2 linked regions of the Homo sapiens genome follow. The protein of the gene in region 2 purifies or fractionates together with the protein of the main gene of each other region. This does not show direct contact. Each region holds a gene or a part of one and is shown on either strand. Other genes may lie near its edges.

Region 1 (4,115 bases), on a different chromosome or scaffold from region 2:
AATGAATAAATATGTTTACTCAGCATTATTAAGGGAAAATAACATATTTGATAAATAGTGGTTCTTCTTGCTCACACTAAATAGGGGTAGTGGAATTATCACTCAGAATATTAACATTGTGAGTAAAAAGGTAGTAACAGGTAGTAAAAATTACTATTTTCAAAAATAAACCATGCAACCATCAGCTTACAAAATTGATCATAGTATGTACTGTTAAATGCTCAAAGACCCAGTTACCTGTTCTTCCAAATCCCTAGCTTCCCAATTAGTTCTACAGGTCAAACAGTAACTGAACACTTTTGAAGTAAATTGTTTCCACAGTCTGTGATCCAATGACAAGCAAACTACCTGGTTTTGAAATGTATAAAAATCACACTGTGGGCTGAAAAAATCCCAACACCTTTGTAACTAGACTCACTATCCCCAAAAGTGTACCTTTTAAGAAACACAACTTTGAATATCTAACTGTTCTATTACCTTTCATATGCACTTAATCAAGGAAATATATCCTCTAAAAATACCAATGCCAAGGATTTGTTTATTTTCCAATACAATGCAATAGGAGAAAGAGCCACAAATATAGAAATCCTTTTTGTCAGGCCTCAAACCCAACATAGGAATGGAGAATGTGTTCCGAAATCAAATATAAGCAATTTGCAGATTATCTACATTGTTAATCGACCCTTGATTATACAAGAAATGAAAGGGAAAATTTTTTTATGTTTATCATTATTCGAAAACTGACCAACCATAAGAAGATCTGATATCCACTGACAGATATTACCTATAATGAAAGCTCCACAAATCTAGAATATGAATCAAGTTTTAATGTTTTGGGTTGGGCGAAGGTGTATTAAATATAAAATACCAGTCAGTAGAATCCAGTCCCTCGCTAAAACACTTGAGAAACTTCAGATAAAGGCATTCTGTCCACCCACTAAATTCACTGATGCTTGTGACTTTATGACCTCAGGCTAATCTAGGATGCCAGGTAAAGGTGCTGGGAAGGCCAAAGAGACTAACATTTATCCAGCACTTTCTAGATGCTGGATATCACAGAAGAATGTGTTATGTCCATTTCAGAGGTTAAATAATTTCCCCAGGGTCACACAGTAAACAGTAATGTTGAAATTTGTTTGCCAGAGTGTGGCTTCAGAGGAATCCGGGAGCACTTCCCAACGGTGTCTGTGGTTTTACGCAACAACAGGTAAGAGTACTGGACAGGACCTCAGAAAGTCCTCCAGTTTCACCCTCGCCTTTAGTCAGGTCGGCCTTGATTGACCAGAAGATCCACGGAAGGAAAGAGACTCCTCCAAGTTCACAGAGCAGGTGAGCTGGGCCAAGAGAAGTGAAAGAGCTGCAACTAAATACCAGGTTTTGCCACAGAGCAGGGATCCTTCCATTACATGGTCTTGTCAGCAAGACATTCAGAAAAGTACATGTTCCTACACATTTTTACTTCCTTTAAATCTGTATGGTTCCTCCCTTTATTTCTTTATTATTTATTATTATTATTTTTTTTTGGAGATGGAGTTTCGTTCTTGTTGCCCAGGCTGGAGTGCAACGGCGCCATCTTGGCTCACCGCAACCTCCGCCTCCTGGCGATTCTCCTGCCTCAGCCTCCCGGGTAGCTGGGATTACAGGCATGCACCACCACGCCCGGCTAATTTTGTATTTTTAGTAGAGATAGGGGTTCTCCATGTTGGTTAGGCTGGTCTCGAACTCCTGACCTTAGGTGATCCACCTGCCTCGGCCTCCCAAATTGCTGAGATTACAGGCGTGAGCCACCGCACCCGGCTGGTTCCTCCCTGTCTTGACCCACATTCGCAGACCACCCTTTGGTCAGGGTAATAATGATAAGTGTTTAAATGTGATAGGTTAGCATTTGGTTGTTGATCTGGTTTGGTTCAGAAGTGTGGTAACTGATGAAAAAAATGATTGACTGAAGCAGGTCTTTATTAAAGGATAATCCCCAGTTACCAAGCAGTACAGAAATGCGTGCGCATGGCCTGGCTCTCCTTCGCCCAGCGTCAACCCTGTTAATTCTGAAAGCTCAACACTGGCAGGATGTTGACCTTGCTGACTAATAAACTGCTAAAATTGAGAAGTGATTAAAAAAAAAATTATGGCCTGAAAATCCCAGCTGGGCAAGGAAAGAGGAACTAGACCGAATCCAAACGAAAAGCTGGGAAGGGTGTGAAACAGCCCTACAGGCCACCCAGCGCCAACAAATGTGTAAGGGTGGGGCCAAGCTAGCTGAGCCGCCCAAAGCAGCCAAAATATCCTGCCCCACCCGCTTCTCCGGCAAGGAAGGTGGCACTGTGCAACCTCGTCCGCACTGAATCCTCGTCCCTTCCCCCAGCCCCCGATCGCCAGCAAACGCAACCAGCGGGCAGCGGGTCTCGAGCTGCGGGGCCTGACTAGCCCCGACACTCCGCGTTATCCTCGGTCCAGAGCTTTCCCAGGCGCGCCGGCCACGGAGGACGCTTCTCTGCGGGTGACGGAGCTACTGCGGTGACCACGGCGGCCGCCACGTCTCCCGCCCGGCTTCCAACTGCCCTGGCCCCAGCGCCCTGGGGCCGTCCCCGCCCACGGGCCGCGGCTGCCCACACCTGGCGCCCGCGTGCTGCCTACCTTGCTCCTTCAGACTGGTAATGAGCTGCAGCTGCTTCTCTTCGTCCGAGCTGTTCATTTTGGCGGGTGGGGCCGGGAATAAAAGGGAAAGAGGGAGCGGCGCGGGGCACACAGGAGGAGGGGGAAGAAAAAGCAAGATGCCGGTGGCTTGCGGCTCCACTACCCGGAAGTTGGATCCGCTCCCGCTCCTCCTCCTCCTGGCGCGGAGCGCGCGAGTGAGATCATCCCCACGCACCTACTCGGCGGCTGCGGCCGCTTCACCTGCAGGCGGGGCGGGGCGGGCCCAGCAGTCCCGTTCAGGGGGTGGAGGAACGAGGGCGGGTCGGCAGCCGCTATGCCAGCCTGTGGCTGCCGGCGCGGCAGGACGCGCTGGTGGGAGGGGGGGCGGCCCTGCGTGGGGTCGCTCCGCACCCTTTTCTCCGCCTCCACCTCCCGGACTCAGGGACGCGAGTTCAGAGAAAACCGGCTGTGGGTTCGCAGCGTGTGTGGGAACTCCACTTTGGACGCTTCCCGGGGGTCGCTCCCAAAGAACCACAGAGGTAGAGCGGGACGCAATGAGCCATGAACGCCTGGGCTTCTTCCCTAGTTTTCCCGCAGTAGACTCTGGGGGCGCGGTTGCAAAACCTAGCTGCCCACAGGGGCGGGCCCAGGGTGGTACATTTTGCACCTTGAAGAGGAGACAAGGATCGAATCAGGCCGCCCAGCTACTTAAATGACCATGCCGTGAGTGAAGGAGGGCCCTGGCTAGCTTTCCCCCATCGCACCAGGTTTGCCAGGTGGTCAGAACGTGGACCCTGCTGCACGTGGATGGTGGGGCCTGGAGGGCCCTTGCAGATCATCTGGTTGGTGGCGGGATGACCTTCCCTTTAGAGAGGGTGCCACTGCAGTCCGAATGCCGAAGGTCACGCAGCCCCCGGGCAGCAGAGGCTGGCAGTTAAGCCAAGCGTTTGTCCCAGTTCACTGCCCTCTGAACTATTTGAACTCATGTCTGTGTTAGACCATGCCCAGGAGAGAAGTGGCAGGTCTGCATTGTTTCAAAGGTGCTTCTCCCCAACCCCTAGTTGCGAGCTAACCTTTGGTCAAGTCTCCTGCATCTTTGAACTTCATCTGAAGAATAGGAAGAATAGTGATACCTACTCTCAAGGAAGAGTTGTAAGGATTTAATAGAGGAAGATTAACAAAACACCAAGTCCAGAATTTATAATGCAGTTTTTTTTTGTTTTTTTTTTGTTTTTTTGTTTTTAATAAAGATTACAGGTCTGTGGCCGGGCACAGTGGCTCACGCCTGTAATCCCAGCACTTTGGGAGGCCAAGGCGGGCAGATCACGAGGTCAGGAGATCGAGACCATCCTGGCTAACACGGTGAAACCCCGTCTCTACTAAAAATACAAAAAATTAGCCGGGCGTGGTGGCAGGCGCCTGTAGTCCCACCTACTCGGGAAGCTGAGGCAGGAGAATGGCGTGAACCCGGGAGGCGGAGC
Region 2 (3,500 bases):
GAGAGGTGGTCCAGTGCCTTGCCCTCAGTGCTCCCTGGCAACTTTCTCCAGGAGGTAGATTTTGGAATGTACCACTAGCTGAGATTTCTTCGGGGCACAGATGAGGAGAAGCACAATTCTAGAAGCAATTAGGAGGCCATGACTAACACTCCCAGGCCTTCCCCATTCTTTATATTATACATTTAATCAGAACCACAGAGTTCAATGCAGCTGCTGGAAAAAATGAAGTTGATGTCTTCATCCTAACATGGAAAAGTCTTTATAAACTCTTAACTGAAAAGAGCAACATGATCAACAGTTATGTAGTATGCTTCATTTTTTGTTTAGATTAAAATAAAACATGATCTGTGAGTGGGGGGTAAGAAGAGGTACTGATCTGAAGAAGACGGTAGCCCAGGGTGTGTTTAATCAGAGTAGGAAAATTCTGGACAGAGCCACAGTGAGATTTTCATAGTGCTTGCCTCCAGGGAGTAGAGCAGGAGCATGGGAGAGATCCTTCCACGGCTTAAACTTCTGCTGCTTTCACATTTTTATAATGAATATGAATTAGGTTGGACAAATGACATTTACATTTTTACAAGTTAAAATTGTCAAATATTGGCAGTTTCATTAGGATCAACCTAAATATATTTTGTAATATAAAAGTCCAATAATGATGTTTAAAGTAAAACAAAACCTGATGCTGCATGCTGGTCAAGTGGGGTCTGACCAGCACAGGGCAAAGTGAGATTCCAGCCACCTCTGTCCTGATGCGGTGCCCCTGCAAACCAGCTGGAGCTCAGCCAGAAGGGTCCTGAGCCTCAGGCCATAGCTCTTCAATGAGTCCTCTCTCCCCGCTAATGCTGCCTAATTCCCACCTCCCCACAGCTTGGGCCAAGAAGTTCATGCAGTCCAGCCCAAATCTCAGAGAATGGTTACCAACACCCATTGGTGTCATTTTCCATGTTGGGGAAATTGTGAAGCACACAACTAGGGAGCACACAAAAGAGTTTATGGGACCCCTTCCTTAGAGTGGGCTTCTCTCCTGAGGTGACTGATACAGTTTGGCTGTGTCCCCACCCAAATCTCATCTTGAATTTTAGCTCCCATAATCTCCACCTGTCGTGGGAGGGACCTGGTGGGAGGTAACTGAATCATGGGGGTGGATTTTCCTGTGCTGTTCTTGTGATAGTAAGTCTCATGAGATCTGATGGTTTTACAAAGGACAATTCCTCTGCACACACTGTCTTGCCTGCCACCATGTAAGACGTGCCTTTACTCCTCCTTCACCTTCCACCATGATTGTGAGGCCTCCCCAGTCACATGGAACTGTGAGTCCATTAAACCTCTTTTTCTTTATAAATTACCCACTCTCAGGTATTTCCTCATAGCAGTATGAAAATGGACTAATACAGTGACCCAAGCAAATCCTGGTACCTTTTGGCATTGGTGTCAGATGAGTCATATGTCGACAATGGGGGCAGGGTGTCTACGGTCAGCCTTTGCCGGTAGCCTTTCACCATCACCGGCGTGAGCCAGGAAAATGTGGCGAAGGAGAGTAGCCCGGCATCATCCACCGGGTTGGGTGCTAACCTGCAGACAAACAAGACACTCAGCGTTCCAGGCACTGGGGTCATTGCCCCAACTCTCTCTCTGGATTGAACTTGTAACTACAGCAACAACCACAGCTGCACTCAGAATCTGTGACTTGCATTCATTATGTTTATTAGCCCTTTGAGCAGTGATGTGCTGGGGCCAGCTGGTGAGAGCCAATTGTTAAATTTTCAGGAATTTTGCAAGTTAGTTGTTAAACACAGTCAATATTCAAAATTAAATTACCTAAGTTTTAATAAATTGTCTTAAAGACAAAGGTAATAATACTCAAAACCCATCACTTCCTTTTTTTGTTCTTCTTCCTTCATTTCTTCTTCCCCTCCTCTTCCTTCTTTTTTCCCCTCCCATTCCTCCTTCTCTTCCTTTTTTTCCTCCTTCTCCTCTTCTTCCTCCTCCTCCTGCCCAGAATTGCAGGGCATTAATACCCCCAGGGGCAAAACTTCACTAAGGTAGTATAGAAGTCCACCTCACATCCTCTGGGTGGAAAACTGGACACTTTCTAGAAGGACCTAGTAGGATCCAGGCCCCTCTGCTCACAGCAGTGACGCTGAGGCCACACCTCACTTTGCCTTTTCCTCCTTCCCTACATCACTCTCCCTAAATCTTTCTTCTTGCTGCTTGGAATCACTTCTCAAATAAGCTATTTGCCTCCAGGTTCTTGACTGAGGCCCTGCTTTTGGGAGAATTCAAGCTAAAATCATGTGAATAAGGTACTACGAGCTCAGCACATAGTAAAAATTCCCTAAAAGGTGACTTTCATGATACAGTCATGCATTACTTCATATATTCCTCACAACAACTCAGTAAGATGGGTGGCAGGGTCATATTATATGCCTATTTCATAGACAAAAACATCAAGGCACAGAGAGTTTAGAGTATTTGCCCAAGGTCTTACTGCTGGAAAGTGGTGAGATGGGAATTCAAACCCACTGCTTGTTGACTCCAGTGTCCTGTCATTCCCTTCAGCACCTCCCCACATTGCCTCTCCACAAAGCGATTATAAACTGGTTGAAAAAGTGGACAGTTAGAGATCTCCTGGGGCTAGGAATAATAGCCCACGTCCTCACCTTCCAACCTCCACCTCTCACCTTGGAGGGCTTAAATGTGTGTGTCCTTGGCCCAGACAGAGATGCTGGGAGAAGATAACGCAGTGTCCGCTTATTATAGAGTTGCCACTTGGCCTTCTGCTGCTCAGAGAACAAACCACAGGGCCTCGTTCCATGTAGAAAAGGCAGCATTTCATAATGTTATGGTTAGCATAATGCTAATAATATATATAATAATACAATATGCTGCAAGGTTGAGCATGTGAGCTCAGAAATCAGACTACCTGAGTTTCTATCCTGGATTTCAAAAATGACCCCGTTTTCTCTCCCCATCTGTTCCCAATTCCTTGGAATGTGACCTGGCAGCTCATTCCATCAAAAAGTCGAGTCTGTTTCCTCACACTTTGAATATAAGCTGGCTTGTGATCTGCTTTGGCCAATAGAATACAGTGAAAAAAGTGGTGTGCCAGTTGCAAACCTGAATCTCAAGAAGCCCTGCATGCTGTCACTCATTCCCTTGGAAGCCTGCCACATTACTGTGTGACCGAGCCTGGGCTAGCCTGCTGGAGGTTGAGCACACGCGGGGTCCAGTTGCCCCATTGCCCCAGCCAACAGCCGGCCCACCTCCAGCAGCACAGCCACCTTGCTGTACAGGAGTAAGCCTGGTCAAGACCAAATGAACCACCCAGCTGAGCTCAGCCCAAGTTGCTTTATTTTATGGGTCACCCATCAAACTGTAAGCTAAATGAGTGGCAATTGTTTTAAGCTGCTAAGTGTTGAGACAGTCTGTTACAAAGCAAAAGCTACCTGGTAAACCTTAGGCAAGTCACTTAACCTCTCTGTGCCTGTTTCCTCACCTAT

What was found. Proteins that work in one complex are often made in the same cells at the same time.
Region 1: the proteins of ABCC12 (region 2) and SHTN1 purify together in Homo sapiens (affinity purification with mass spectrometry; one large-scale study listed by BioGRID and IntAct). This does not show direct contact.

What each region holds. Positions count from the first base shown.
Region 1 is NC_000010.11:117,002,388-117,006,502, forward strand, and holds the start of SHTN1 (shootin-1), read right to left. Parts: upstream 2,801-4,115; 5' UTR 2,693-2,800; coding exon 2,635-2,692; intron 1-2,634. UniProt on the Homo sapiens protein: Involved in the generation of internal asymmetric signals required for neuronal polarization and neurite outgrowth.
Region 2 is NC_000016.10:48,142,494-48,145,993, forward strand, and holds part of ABCC12 (ATP-binding cassette sub-family C member 12), read right to left. Parts: intron 1,573-3,500; coding exon 1,417-1,572; intron 1-1,416. UniProt on the Homo sapiens protein: Probable transporter, its substrate specificity is unknown.